Homo sapiens: one gene and its partners. The protein of the gene in region 1 binds, or shares a complex with, the protein of each later gene. Each region holds a gene or a part of one and is shown in the gene's direction. Other genes may lie near its edges.

The links. The genes of interacting proteins can lie anywhere in the genome.
Region 2: RBBP4 (region 1) and TFDP1 share a complex: the UniProt entries of both Homo sapiens proteins name them as parts of the DREAM complex.
Region 3: RBBP4 (region 1) and TFDP2 share a complex: the UniProt entries of both Homo sapiens proteins name them as parts of the DREAM complex.
Region 4: RBBP4 (region 1) and BPTF share a complex: the UniProt entries of both Homo sapiens proteins name them as parts of the BPFT-SMARCA1 complex.

Annotation. Positions count from the first base shown.
Region 1 is NC_000001.11:32,681,632-32,684,702, forward strand, and holds part of RBBP4 (histone-binding protein RBBP4), read left to right. Parts: 3' UTR 1-156; coding exon of another isoform or gene 157-229; 3' UTR 230-2,154; coding exon of another isoform or gene 2,155-2,458; 3' UTR 2,459-2,626; coding exon of another isoform or gene 2,627-2,751; 3' UTR 2,752-3,071. Other genes in the region: SYNC (syncoilin), read right to left, coding at 2,155-2,458, 2,627-2,751. UniProt on the Homo sapiens protein: Core histone-binding subunit that may target chromatin assembly factors, chromatin remodeling factors and histone deacetylases to their histone substrates in a manner that is regulated by nucleosomal DNA.
Region 2 is NC_000013.11:113,636,476-113,639,904, forward strand, and holds part of TFDP1 (transcription factor Dp-1), read left to right. Parts: intron 1-58; coding exon 59-225; intron 226-1,144; coding exon of another isoform or gene 1,145-1,342; coding exon 1,343-1,421; intron 1,422-3,429. UniProt on the Homo sapiens protein: Can stimulate E2F-dependent transcription.
Region 3 is NC_000003.12:141,950,003-141,954,321, reverse strand, and holds part of TFDP2 (transcription factor Dp-2), read left to right. Parts: intron 1-1,305; coding exon 1,306-1,411; intron 1,412-1,625; coding exon 1,626-1,809; 3' UTR 1,810-4,319. UniProt on the Homo sapiens protein: Can stimulate E2F-dependent transcription.
Region 4 is NC_000017.11:67,940,226-67,944,544, forward strand, and holds part of BPTF (nucleosome-remodeling factor subunit BPTF), read left to right. Parts: intron 1-213; coding exon 214-431; intron 432-3,924; coding exon 3,925-4,147; coding exon of another isoform or gene 4,148-4,259; intron 4,260-4,319. UniProt on the Homo sapiens protein: Regulatory subunit of the ATP-dependent NURF-1 and NURF-5 ISWI chromatin remodeling complexes, which form ordered nucleosome arrays on chromatin and facilitate access to DNA during DNA-templated processes such as DNA replication, transcription, and repair.

The DNA of each region.
Region 1 (3,071 bases):
GAAATAGAATCCAGCAAAGAGTTGACATGTTCTGCCTCCGGCCAACTCTAGAATCTTTTTAAGCAGGTCAGCCAGTATTTGCAACTTCCACAGGATGAATTGCTTGCCAAGTTTCTGGCACTCTTGTCTGGTTGGAAGAGTACATCCAAAGGGTACTTAGTGATCCTTTGCTAAGAAGTTTTTTGCTGTTTCCGGGTTACAGATTTGGCCATATATTTCTAAACAGCCCCTGTAAAGTTGAAAGAAAAAGTTTATAACAGTGAACTTCTGAGGTTTAGTTACTGCAGGCTTTGTTGAGAAGAGATTGTTACAGTGTGATTTATGGATGATCAGGGATGACTTTCCCCTAGCAAATATTTGGATGCCTCCTGTTTGTCAAATAGAATGAATGGTGATGGTGATGGGAGGGATAGTTAAACGTTTTCTCTGCTAGGTTAACTTCTTACAGGTATAATTACAATGCCTGAAATTCTGTAGTTTCATTTCTTTGGATTAGTCGTTGTCTTTTCCAGATTGTACACAATCTGATCAACACAAAGGTAGTTAGTAGATCATTAACCTCAATTGCAAGGTTATAATTTCTCAAACATTAAGCATATTATCAGTCATGTGGATTCAAACACAGTATAAGAAAATCCTCAAGGCTGGGTGTGATGGCTTATGCCTGTAATCCCAGCTACTTAGCAGGCTGAGGCAGGAGTATTGTTTGAACCCAGGAGGCAGAGTTGCAGTGAGCCAAGATCGTGCCACTACTCCAGCCTGGGCAAAATAGCAAGACCCGACCCCCCATCTCTACTAAAAAGAAATTTAAAAAAATAAAATCCTAGAAAATTAGAAAAAGCAACAATAGTTACTTGTGGGCCAGGCGCGGTGGTTCACGCCTGTAATCCCAGCACTTTGAGAGGCTGAGGCACGTGGATCACAAGGTCAGGAGTTCAAGACCAGCCTGGCCAAGATGGTGAAACCCCGTTTCTACTAAAAATACAAAAACTAGCTGGCCGTGGTGGCATGCTCCTGTAGTCCCAGCTACTCAGGAGGCTGAGGCAGGAAAATCACTTGAACCCAGGAGGTGGAGGTTGCAGTGAACTGAGACCGTGCCACTGCACTCCAGCCTGGGTGGCAGAGCGAGACTGTCTCAAAAAAAAAAGAAAGTTGTGAATTTGATGTAAGCTTAGGAAATGAATAAAATTTATAGGCATCTGTATAATGTACAACTTGACACGGACTTTCTTTTATCCTTAGTTTCTTTCACGGACTCTAGAACTTTTATCAGAATATACTGGTAAAACATTGGGGGAGGGATCCTGAGTAGGTGATTGGTCAGAAAGATGCCTTCAGTTTTGTCAGTGTCTAAAAGTTAAGTCTGTTTAGGCCAAGCATGGTGGCTCACACCTGAAATCCCAGCACTCTGGGAGGCCGAGGCAAGTGGATCACAAGGTCAGGAGATGAGACCATCTTAGCCAACATGGTGAAACCCCGTCTCTACTAAAATACAAAAAAATTAGCCAGGCGTGGTGGTGCGTGCCTATAATCCCAGCTACTTGGGAGGCTGAGGCAGGGGAATCGCTTGAACCCGGGAGGCAGAGGTCACGCCACTGCACTCCAGCCTGGCAACAGAGCAAGACTCCGTCTCAAAAAAAAAAAAAAAAAAAAAGAGTAAGTCTGTGTAACATGAACATCTCTGCTTCCACCCAAAACCACAGCCTTTGAATATTATATAAGGAACTTAATGGATAGATATGTTTATTATTTTTGATAGCACAACTGCTTTCTCTGCTATTATAAGGAAAACTGAGAATAGCAGGTGGGTAGGGTAGGATGAGGAAACAAGATGCCCAAAGCCTAGATGCCACAGAATTCATGGTGATAATCAGGGCATATTTTGAGTCCTACTAGAAACAAACATTCCAAATGAACTCTGAATGCCTGACTCAGGCGTTTTGGAGGTTTGGGTTATCCCCTTGTCATTAGGCACACAAGGGTTTTTTGTTGTTTTTGTTTTTTGGGTTTTTGTTTTGTTTTGAGGCAGTCTCACTCTGTTGTACAAGCTGGAGTGCTGTATTGTGATCTTGACTCACTGCAACCTCTGCCTCCTGGTTCAAGCGATTCTCCTGCCTTGGCCTCCTGAGTAGCTGGGATTATAAGTGCCTGCCACTATGCCCGGCTAATTTTTGTATTTTTAGTGGAGATGGAGTTTTGCCATGTTGGCCAGGCTGGTCTTGAACTCCTGACTCCAGGTGATCCACCCTCCTCAGCCTCCCAAAGTGCTAGGATTACAGGCGTGAGCCACCCCGTCCGGCCTGTTTTTAAGGCATTAATTAGTATTGTTAGGAAAGCAGTAACAATGCAAACACCACTCTTCTCTTCACAAAGATCACCTTGAGACTGTGTCTCCATTCCACCTGCCTGAGAAGTGGGAGCATCAGCCTGTTCCAGGCTCTTGGGTAGTAGCATAGCCCTTTAAAAAGAGAGAGCCATTTTCCATGTGTTTTTGGATAAGCACAATTTGAAAATCATTTCCCAAATCCTCTTTTTGTTTTTGATTCTAAGGTAAAATTTTCCCTAAGCCCTCCCACCATCCCCTCAGCCAGTATTAGATGAGATTTGTATAGCAGCAGAAACTGACTTATAAGTAGAGAGCTCTTCAGCAAGACTGAGCCTTAGCTGTTCCATCTCTTTGTTCTTCTGTTGCTGGAGTTGCACCCCATTTCTTAACTGCCTCTGGCGTTCTTCCATTTCCTCCAGCTGTTCCTGCATGAGATGGCCAAGAACATTTCTAATGAGCCAAACAATAAAAACTCACATTGTCCACTCTTACTTATAAAACACTTTTTTGTTCATTGTTTAATCTTGATAGCAGTATTGAGGCTGGTATTTATATGATAGGTTATGAAACAGGTTCAAAGAAGTTGTGTCTTGGAAAAAAAGTGACAATGCTTTTGAAAATGATGACGAAAAAGGCATCTTGTCTGTTAACCACAGCTTGCTTTAATAGAATCCTGGGAGGGTGATTGGGACTTTTTAGTATTACAACCTTAGTGTCATTGAGGAGGATTTTGGTCTAGTTAGTG
Region 2 (3,429 bases), on another chromosome or scaffold:
AGTGTGTACCGTCTCCGCTGGGAGACCCTGTCTTTCTGACTGTGCCTTTCCCCTTCAGATTTGAGTATCTGTTTAATTTTGACAACACATTTGAAATCCACGATGACATAGAAGTGCTGAAGCGGATGGGCATGGCTTGCGGGCTGGAGTCGGGGAGCTGCTCTGCCGAAGACCTTAAAATGGCCAGAAGTCTGGTCCCCAAGGCTCTGGAGCCATACGTGACAGGTCAGCAATGCCCAGACAACCTGGCGTGGCTGTGTGAGGAATGGCCCCCAGCCTCCGACGGTGCCCTCCCCTCCCGGCTCGGGATGTGTCTTGCTGAGATCAGGCCCACGTGTGTAGGGCCAGGAGCAAAGACAAAGGGGCTGTGAGGGGGATGAGGGCAGGGGTGTGGCTGGGGTGGGGTCCAGCCAGTGCCGTGACCCACTGGATATGGGGGCCTTGAGTCCACAGGTGGCTCGTGTGGATTTCCTATGTGGTTTGTGTGAGGAGGTGCTAAGTCAGGATTTTACCCTCCAAGTAGGCCCAGAAGTAGAAGTTGAGATTCTTTGAGAAGTGCAGTTGGATTGCTGATCCCACCCACTGATGGTAGCTGATTGGTCACTAGGGCAAAGTCACCAAGAAAAAGCATTTCAGAGTCATTGGCGTCCTGCTCCGGAGGGCCGGGAGCACAGGAGCTTTTGTTGAAGGAGCTTTTTTTCTGTTCTGGTGAATTCTTTCCTTGGGGGCCGTAGGGTCCCAGCCACTGACAGCAGGATGGCTTTAAGGTGAGAAATTGTGAAGGTGTCATATCTGCTGATCCTTCTCTTGTTAGCCTAAACTTGGGGTGTAGATTTATTCCCTGAGAGGGTCAGAGATTCCTCCCTGAGCTCTTAGACTGCCCCAGATCTTGTGAAAATCTGGCTGGTCCATGTTGTCAGGTGACAGTGGGCTCTGGCCGCCCACGTGGGCTGGGCCCTGACCCCGGCCTCTGTCCCGTGCTTCATGGAGCTGCCAGGATGGGCTGTGGGAAGAGGGTTTCAGCTTGACACTTTGATTCGGTTCCGTTTCACGATGGGTATGATACTGAGGCAGCAGCACACGTGTGCCGTTTGTAAGTCAGTGTGTGCAGGTATTTATTGCAAGGCTGTTCTTGCCTTTTTAGAGAAGACAGGCTTATGTGACTGCACAGCGGGATGTCCTGCTCCGTGGCGCAGTGTGGAAAATACTGGACAAGCGAAGGATATCCGGAAGCTTCTACAGCCGTCTGTCCTGTGGAACTGCGCGTCATTTTGTTGGTTGCCTGTGCGTCTTGTGTTGTTTCTGTTTCATGACCATTCGCTTATTTTCTTTCCCTTTTCAGAAATGGCTCAGGGAACTGTTGGAGGCGTGTTCATCACGACGGCAGGTTCCACGTCTAACGGCACAAGGTTCTCTGCCAGGTGACAGTCGTTGAGGGTGTGGGAGAGGCGTCATCTGGGCCTCCCCCGGGGTCCAGGGGCCAAGGCAGGGCAGCCGTCTCAGGTGTGGCCATCAGGTCTGTGGCTGCTCTGACGTGGCTTGTCTGTCCAGGCAGTGGGGCCCCGCTGGCTTTCCCTGTGTGGAGAGCTGCTTTTCTTAGTTGGTTTCTGCTCACTAAAAACTGAAAGTAATACATGGTGGTTTTTTTTTCATAGTATCACCTAATAAGTAAAGTAGGAATGAAAACCACCCAAATCCTCCTGTCCCCGGCAGCCCAAGTAACAGCAAGTATTTCCAGGTTTTTTTTCCCATTTTTCAGAACGCGTCTGCGGTCACAGCGCACGTATTTTTCAGAACGCGTCTGCGGTCTGGGCGCAAGTAGTTTTCAGAACGTGTCTGCGATCACAGCACACATTTTTCAGAACGCATCTGCGGTCATGGTGCATGTGTTTTTCAGAATGCATCTATGGTCATAGCGCATGTATTTTTCAGAACGTCTGCCATCACGGCGCACGTGTTTTTCAGAACGCGTCTGCGGTCTCGGCGCACGTGCTGCGATCACAGTGCATGTATTTTTGCGAACGCGTCTGTGATTATGGTACACGTATTTTTCAGAACGCGTCTGCAATCACAGCGCACGTATTTTTCAGAACGCGTCTGTGGTCACAGCACACATATTTTGTTCCGTGCATTTTTCAGCTTACATTTTATTGTATGAATATATATTGTTTCTATGCTATTAAAGGGCCTTTATTTAAATAAATTTGTATTTAATCTTTGACCTGCAATCCCACAGAGTAGAATGGTGTCCCTAGGTATTGATCTTAGTGCTTCAAAGATAAATATAACTTTTATGGTAAATATTAACAAAACAATGATTTTATTAACTTTTATATTGCATTGTGATACAATATATAGTATTACTTTATATTAATCTTAAGTGTTAATAAAATCTTTAATTAGAAATACAAGAACTCAGTAACCTATGGGTCCGGGTAACAGGGCTCGACATAGTGAGTTTCAGTGTGCTTGAGCCTGCGTTGGGATGTGCTGTGGCCATGAGATGTAACAGGTGTGTCGGGCACGTGTAGCTTCCTGGCCAGCTCTGGAAGTGCAAAGCCAGCCTTGGCCTCCTCACCTGTAAGGTGAGACTGGTGATTGATGAGTTACTGATCTGTGGCAAGGATCAGTGAGGTGGTGATGGAAGAAAGGACTTTGGTGACAAGCTTTTGACAGAGGCCGGTTCTCCTTCTGTTGTAGCTATGTGTGAACGTGTGGCGGTCAGTCTGTAAACATGTTTAATGCTGCTTCTTCCATGAGGTGGGATGTGGGTATTTTTAGGACTTTTATCATCACATAATCCTTTTTATGGATGTGATTCTTCAGACTTGTCAGTTTTTCATAACAATGGAAACAAAGCTATTACCATTTCTTACGAAATACCGATTTTCATAGTGGCATGATGAGACATTTTATACAAGTACCTCATGAAAGGACATCTAGGTAGTTCCCAGTTAGAATAAAAACTGCAGTGAGCAGCTTTACAGCTGAATTTCTCGCCATTTCTGACTTGTTTCCAAGATACAGAATTACTTCATCAAAAGGCACATTAACACATTTTTATTGTAGTGTTAATAAATACCATTAAAATGTATTAAAATATGTACATATGGTTTTATGTTAATTGAAAACATCTTTAAACATTAGGAACGTAGTGAGCTCTGGTTGGTGGTAGGTTTTTGTGGTGCTGCCAGCCCTCTGGGTTCTCAGTCCCCGCTGCCAGATTCGACCCACGCTCTGGACTCCATCCTGTCCTGCCCCGGGCTCTCTTTTTTCCTGTTGCTGGTTATGAGTGAAAGTCCCGGAGGGAGGGATCTAATGGTTTTACAGTTTGTTCCCTCTGGGGCACTGCTCCTGATGGAATGATGAGTGAGGGAGAGGCAGCGTGTGGCTCTGCTCAGCCTCCTGTTTCTGTCGTTATGGGTTCCA
Region 3 (4,319 bases), on another chromosome or scaffold:
TGAGCTAACACTGTAGATGGGAAGATAAAAAGTATTAAACCAGTAAAATTACAATAAGAATTGATCAGTGTTGTCATAGGATAAATGTGGTATATGTATAGAAAAGAAGATGGCAAGGAGATATCCAAAATATTTTCTTTTCTTTTTTTCTTTTATTTTTTGAGATGGAGTTTCGCTCTTGTTGCCCAGGCTGGAGTGCAGTGGTGCAATCTCAGCTCACTGCAACCTCCGCCTCCCGGGTTCAAGTGATTCTCCTGCCTCAGCCTCCCGAGTAGCTAGGATTACAGGCATGCACCACAACGCCCAGCTAATTTTGTATTTTTAATAGAGATGGGGTTTCTCCATGTTGGACAGAACTCCCAACTTCAGGTGATCCGCCCTCCTTGGCCTCCCAAAATGCTGGGATTATAGGCGTGAGCCACCGTGCTCAGCCCAAACTATTTTCTGTAGACTAAAACAGTAACGTCTGTGTCTGCCTCATTAAAAACATGACTGCATGTGACCTTTTTAAAATAAGAGCTAGTTGTGGGGTGGGGGGAGGGGGGAGGGATAGCATTAGGAGATATACCTAATGCTAAATGACGAGTTAATCGGTGCAGCACACCAGCATGGCACATGTATACATATGTAACTAACCTGCACATTGTGCACATGTACCCTAAAACTTAAAGTATAATAATAATAAAAAAAATAAAATAAGAGCTAGTTTGAATTAGAAAGCAACAGACACCAGGAAAAATCTTGTCAGGAAAAAGAATAGATATTTGATGAGTAGCAGCATTGAGTTCACCAGCAGCAGGCACCTGAAAAGACATTGCGGCGGGGGTTTTGGCCAAAACATGTCTGTCTGCCCTCTAAGCAGGGTGGCCTTCTTACCTCATGTATTTCTGATTTGATTTTCTCTTTTCCCACTTCTGGCTTTGGCTCTCAACACCACAGTCCAGGTCTTTTGTGCTGAGGGCAGAAGGCATTGAGGGTGGTACACTGGGATGTATCCCATGGGCTGTGCTCTGGAGGGCTTATCTAAGAAAAAGAGTAAGAAAGTGCCTTTGAGTGTTTTCATTTGAATACCTTCTCTCCGTAAGCTGCCTTCCCGTATTTTTTTTTTCCTGCTCTTATGTTCTAGAAATTTTTTTTTCTTCCAAGAAGATGAAGAAACCTGGGTTCTTGTCACAGCAAGAGAATTGTCTAGCTGTCATGAAGAATAAGCTTAGCTCTTGCTTTTCTGTGCTTTCCTCAGACTGTAACAACAGCAGCCACAGAACTTGCAGGACCGACATTTTTTGTTCTCATTTTTTCCTTTAGATATCTCCACAGGACCTTCTTGGTTAAATCAGGGACTACTTCTGAACTCTACCCAATCAGTTTCAAATTTAGACCTGACCACTGGTGCCACCTTACCCCAGTCAAGGTACGTATTTTTTTCAGGGTTAGAAAGGCAAACCCCAGAGCCCTGACTGTCTGTGTAGGGGTGAGCCGGGGTCATGTTACTGCCAGCACAGGTCCTGCTGAGCAGGTTTGTGGCAGATCTCACCAATGGCACCTCCTTCCTGTTTTTATTCCTATGTTTTACAAAACTGTTTATACCACATTAATGAGCCTGTGTGTTTTTAATTGTTTGCTAGTGTAAACCAAGGGTTATGCTTGGATGCAGAAGTGGCCTTAGCAACTGGGCAGTTCCTGGCCCCAAACAGTCACCAGTCCAGCAGTGCGGCCTCTCACTGCTCCGAGTCCCGAGGCGAGACCCCCTGTTCGTTCAATGATGAAGATGAGGAAGATGATGAGGAGGATTCCTCCTCCCCAGAATAAAGACAAGAGAAAGCCTACGTTTCAATATGTGATGCTCATGTGTGTTTGTAGTGTGAGCTCTTGTTTTTGAAATGATTGCTTCAGTCTTTGCCTTTGTTTGCACTGTGTGTTCAGTGAAAACTAGAGAAACACAATAAGCAAATCACATGAAGGCTGAGATGATTGAGATGAAAGTTAACATAGTGTGAATGAAAGTCTGGCCAACAGAGCAGTAGATGATATAACAAAGAAAGCATGCTTTCTGAGGAGATAGTGGGGATAATCCCTGAAGAGTTGGCAGTGTGAGTGCAACTCATTTATCTTCTGTGAGGTGGGATTTTTGTGTTCCTCACACCCATGTAATTATTCTTAGAATTGAGATTGCTACACGGAGCAGTCCTTGACGATCGTGTTTCTGACGTTTCTCTTCCTTGCCTGGACTGCCTTTGACAAGGCAGAAATGAACATGAAAAGTCCCCAGGAGAGGGGAGCTGTGTAGTGAGGGATACTGAGGGCAGTCCTGTGGCTGAGGGGCACAGATTGAACTGCTGAACTAGTTGGAGGTCTAGATGAGGTGCTTTACGCATCAGCTGCCTTAGACAGCTTCTAGAAAGGAGCGAGCGCTACTTCTTAAGTACTTAAGTGACATTTAGATAATTTATAGTAAAACTGAAATTATTATTAGCCAATGCATTGGTGCATAGAATTTACTAGGGCTACTTCTGGAAGCCAAAATAGAATAGCATTTCCATGTGCATTAAATACTTTGCCAGCACTGCCTTTGCCAGCATCCTAAATCTGGAGTTTTACAAAGAAGGAAACTGTATCTTTAGGTTAATCAAAGCTATGCATTTCATATAGCTTTTTCATTTAAAACAAGACAAAGAAACAAATTCCTATGACCAAATTGCTTGCCTACAGTTCCCTGCAGTAATTGTATGATCTCACCCAGTGTGCAATTTGTGAAAATGAACCAAATGTCATTACTTTTGTCTTAAAGAAAAGTCTATTTCAAGAATATGAACAGCAGTGTTTCCTTGTACATGTCACCTTTTTTCACATTTTCATTAATCAGAATGACCTTATTGAGCCTACTCCTGGGGTCAATTGCATTTCAAACTAATCCAATATTTAGTGTTTCACAGAAACACTAGAAAACGTTGAACACTCCTACTGCCTGGATATATGGTAGTGCAGTTATGTTGTTTATGGCTCAAGATGTCATTAGAAATACTGCAGTGGTGTATTCACAGCTGCTCCTTCTCTGAATGAAAGAGTGTAGGGACACCTGCCACCATGGCCAGACCCTGACTGAATTTCACATTAAGGCTTTGGAAAGGAGCAAATAATAATGGGAGAATTAACTCCAAAACTTTGACCTGAATCATGTGGATTTGTCCCAAGATTATGCTAGATGCACCAAGCATGGCCCAAATTGGTTCTTTTTTAAATCCCATGGGGGAAGTGCAGGCTCCTTCCTGTGGTGCCTCTTTATAGCCTCACCACCATGCTAACACTGAGCATGGTGAGGAGGAGGAAGCTTTGGCTAGCTAAACATGTTTAATAAGGCCATAAAAACTGAGAAAGAAAAACATTCAACTTTAGCTGAAGCTCCTTTGATACAAAAGTTTCATTCTGTCAGAAATAAGCCATAGTACAGACTCAGAGATAGAGGCAGTTTCTAGAGAACTCGGTCTTATCGTGGGTTCTGGAGCACACCTCTCAGACCAGTCAGGAACACTGGGGAGGTGACAGCAGGTCCCCAGGGGCCTGCAGGGAATCTTTCAGCTGCACGGATTGGGATTTCCCTCCAAACCAAACTGTCCTTTAAGGGGCAGCCTCCTCTTTTACTAACTCCACCCTTTCTCATCTCTGGGACCCAGCAGGGACCTGGAGAGGCCAACAGCCACTGCTACCTTTGTAGTCTTCAAAATATTGAACTGCAGGTCCCAAGATGCATTTCAGGATTTAAGACAGGTGCACTAATGATAACCATTCCTTCACCAAGTAGCAACATTCTTGCCAGAGTTCTTGGGAAACCTGTTTTTTTCTCTACTCTCCATCTCTGCTGCTCTCATGCTTTAAATTGATAAAATATGGGCTCAAAAAAAGAAAGCCGCCAAAGACTCTTATCCTTATTGGTGCCCCATCATTGGCCACCCCAGCCATAGGTGTGTGCTGTTGGTGGGAAATGGTCTCCTTCCTCAGCGTTGTGTTTGGGTTACTGGTGAGGCCAGCTCACAGAGTGACATCATGGTCACCAGTACATGTCGCTGGAGTAAAATCTTGCCTTTAGAAACTAGGTTGAGCTGTTCAGAAAGGTCAATTCTCTTCTGTATTCCCCCTCAACATTTATCTGGGTCTAAAGCTCAGCACTGAGTCACAATTTCACACAAGATCAAAGTGAGGCAGTGTTAGGAAACCATGGGCTGGGTGCAGTGCCTCTCGCCTGTAATCGTAGCACTTTGGGAGGCCGAGGCGGGCACATTGCTTGAGCTCAGGAGTTCAAGACCAGCCTGGGCAACATGACA
Region 4 (4,319 bases), on another chromosome or scaffold:
ACTGGATAACGGTTGGCAGTGAAAACAGACTCACTGCCAACCAGGCAGGACCTTTGGATGTGGGTATATGTCTGAATGTATCCTTAGGCTCTGAATATCCCAGTGTTTTTTTGAAGATGGAAAAGAATACGTTCATGTGAGGTGTTGAATTATTTCAATTCAAAATAATGCCAAGGGTGTATAAGCATTCATAATGTTTTGCTGTTTGGGTAGGTGCTCCTCAGCAAGTGATGACTCAAATCATCAGGGGGCAGCCTGTCTCCACTGCAGTCTCCGCCCCTAACACGGTTTCCTCAACACCTGGGCAGAAAAGCTTAACTTCAGCAACGTCCACTTCAAATATACAGTCTTCAGCCTCACAACCCCCTCGCCCCCAACAAGGACAAGTGAAGCTCACCATGGCTCAACTTACTCAGTTAACACAGGGCCACGTAAGTAACATAAGCTTTATTTTAACTTTAGAGGTGATCTTATTTATTCTTGCGGTAAGTTTAAAAACATGAACTTATTTTGATACGTTTTTAAATGTGCTGATTTGAAGAAATGGTTGCTTCCTGGAGTCAAGCAGAAATACCTCTTAGACAGGATATAATAAACCCCAACTACTAGAGTAATCTTTAGACAGTGAGCTAAAACAGTGAGACAGATAACCCTTTTAAACACCAAAATTTTATTAGTTGGCTAATCTCCATGAGACAAATAAAATTTGAGTACATTAAGCTGCTTCCTTGCAAGACTCGATATTGTTAGCAAGTCTTCTAATATTGATTAATAAATTGAATGCAGCTCCCATCAAAATCCCAAGAGGTTTTGTTTTTAGTGAAACTTCACAAGCTGATACTGAAAGTTTATATGGAGGTACAAAGTATTAAGAATATCTGTACCTTTGAAGAACAGGATTATTTGCCCTATATATGATAACTTGATATCAAAACTTAGTATAGGCTGGGCATGGTGGCTTGCGCCTGTAATCCCAGCACTTTGGGAGGCCAGGGCGGGTGGATTGCTTGAGGTCAGGAGTCTGAGACCAGCCTGACCAACATGGTGAAATTCCATCTCTGCTAAAAGTACAAACAAATTAGCTGGGCGTGGTGGCATGCGCTTGTAATCACAGCTACTCAGGAGGCTGAGGAAGGAGAATTGCTTGAACCTGGGAGGCGGAGGTTGTAGTGAGCTGAGATTGCACCACTGCATTCCAGCCTGGGTGACAAAGCAAGACTTCATCTAAAAAAAACCAAAAAACTTAGTATATAATACTTCACTAATTAATATAGTGAGGTACAGACATAAGGAGAGGCAGATAGACCAACAGAACAGTAGAGAGTGCAGAACATGAACCCCATGTATGTGGACACTTGTTATATGACAAAGGTGACATTGCAGATCATTGAGGAAGAGATGACTTTTCAGTAAATGGTGCCAGGACAATTGAATATACATGGGAAACTGTGAAATTGGACCATTATTACCTCACTCTACATAAACTCAATTCCAGGAGGATGAAAGTCCTAACTGTGAAAGGTAAAACTATAATACCTTTAGAAGATAGAAGAATATCTTCATAGCTTTCCTAAACAGATAGAAAATGCTAACCATAAATGAAAAGATTTATAAATTCAACTACTTTAAAAATAAGAGTAAGAACCTCTGTTCATCAAACTCACTACAGAGAGAGTGAAGAAAATGAGAAAAGAACCAACCAAGGACTATTACATATCCAGAATATATAAAGAATTACTACAAATCAAGAAAGAAAAAAATCCAGATAGATCAATAGGAAAAAAGACAAACAGGCAAGGTGCGGTGGCTCACACCTGTAATCCCAGCACTTTGGGGGGCCAAGGTTTTGGGAGGCCAAGCCAGGTGGATCACTTGAGGTCAGGAGTTTCAGACCAGCCTGGCCAACATGGGGAAACCCCGTTTCTACTAAAAATACAAAAATTAGTCAGGCGTGGTGGTGTACGCCTGTAATCCCAGCTGCTTGGGAGGCTGAGGCAGGAGAATTGCTTGAACCCAAGAAGCAGAGGTTGCAGCGAGCCAAGATATACCACTGCACTCCAACCTAGGCAACAGACTCCGTCTCAAAAAAAAGAAAAACAAAAAAAAAAGGACAAACCAACATTATGAGGAAAGAAGAAATCTAAATGTCCCAAATTCCAAAAAACTGCTGAACTTTATTAATAATGAGAGAAGTACATATTAAAACCATATGCTTAAGAGATTGGTACAAATTTAAATGTCCAACAAAACCAAGAGTTAGCAAAGACATAGAGCAGAAAGAATTCTCATGCACAGCTGGTGGGCCTATCAGTCGGTTCAGCCATTTTGGAAACTTCCTGGACATGGTCTGGTAAAGTCAAAGCTGTGTATGCCCAAGGTCCCAGTATACCTTCTAGGTATATCCCTAGAGAAGTTGTTGGCCATGTGAGCACCAGAATACATGGCATAAATATTGGTAGCAGCATTGTTCATAAGAATCAAAAACTAAGAACAACTCAGGTGTCTATCAAAATCAGTTAGCTAAGTAAATTGTAGTATATTCCTACAGCAATAAAAATGAATAGACTTCAGCCACACAGAACTATGCAGATGATTCTCACAAATATATAATGGTAAGCTAAAGAAGCAAGTAGCTGCCAAAAAAAATACATGTTATAATTTCATTTGTATAAGATTCAGAAATAGGCAAAACTAAGCTATTTTGTGTAGGGATACAGGGCTGCTGCATTGCCTGCCTGGAGGGGGCACTATTCCCATTGTATTCTTTGTGAATATTGCTCCTGAGTTTGTGAACCTCAGTGGCCTTATATATACCTAAGATACATACCGAAGTAGTAATGAAATACAGTGTTATCATCAAAGTGAGGATAGTGCTTACCTCTAGGGGAGAGGGAGGGAATTGAAATCCGGGTGAGTCATATGGGGACTTCTAGGACACTGGCAATGGTGACCACAGTGGCGGTTTTATAGATGTTTACTTTATAATTTTTAAATTATACTTGGTGTTTTGTGCATTTTGTGCATAAAAAATGTATTTTAGAAAAGCAAGAGTAAATAAGTTTTGAGGGATTCACATGTATATGGAGCTTACTTAGTACATGGACTTTGCGCCATCAGTTTTGGTCATTGGGAGTTTAGGGGATGGTTTTTACTTTTGCTTTCCAGTTCTCCAGCATGTTCCTGGTATTCAGGGTTTCTAGTTGAATTACAGTTCTGGACAGAAGAGAGAGCGCCTAGAGAATTTTAAATTTCTGGACCCCTTTTTGGTAACTGCTCAGACCTTAGTGATCCTCCTTACTTGGTGTTTGCATTACATATCTAAAACCCTAAGCTTTTTACAGTTTAGCACACACACACCCCATAGGTAATTTGGCACGTATTGAAAGACAAAATTCAGGAGATCTAGGTTCCTTCTTTTATCTCACCTTTAAGTTGGCCAGGGTACTTGACCTTTCTAACCTGAGTTTCTTAGTTGGGAATCAGAAGAATATTTTCTCTGCCTACCCCATAAAGTCACAAGTCCATTGTGAGAATCAAATGAGGCAGTATCTATGAAGATGCTTTTGAAATTGTAAAATATGAATATAAGATTATTTAAAATCAGAATTTTGTGGGGACTTTAGTTATTCAATACCTTTATTTTATAGATTGGGAAACTTGGATCTGGAGGAACAGTGTTGCTTGTGGACAGATAACTGGCTGACCATTGGGGGAGCTTGAACTGGAACTCTGGATTGTTGATGTTTTTCCTACTAAGCAACATAAATATTCTTACTTTAGCTTATCTAAATTCCTGCTGGTGACATTCAAATATGTATTTTCATTATATTAAAAGATAATTACACATAAAAATGATTTAATAAAAATGATATACATACAGATTGATGCTTTGAACACTGTTTACATGTTGTGTTTTTTCCACAGGGTGGCAATCAAGGTTTGACAGTAGTAATTCAAGGACAAGGTCAAACTACTGGACAGTTGCAGTTGATACCTCAAGGGGTGACTGTACTCCCAGGCCCAGGCCAGCAGCTAATGCAAGCTGCAATGCCAAATGGTACTGTTCAGCGATTCCTCTTTACCCCATTGGCAACAACAGCCACCACAGCCAGCACCACCACCACCACTGTTTCCACGACAGCAGCAGGTAGAGCTGTGGGTTTATCGGAAATGTCGGATGTTACTACTACACGTGGCTGGGCTAACAGAGGCCAACAGGAGAACCAGTATTTACCTTTGGAAGGATATGCCTCAAGCCAGTGACCTCAACAGTTGACATAGTCAGCCTCACAACGTCTCGAAGCTTTTGTACCCTATTC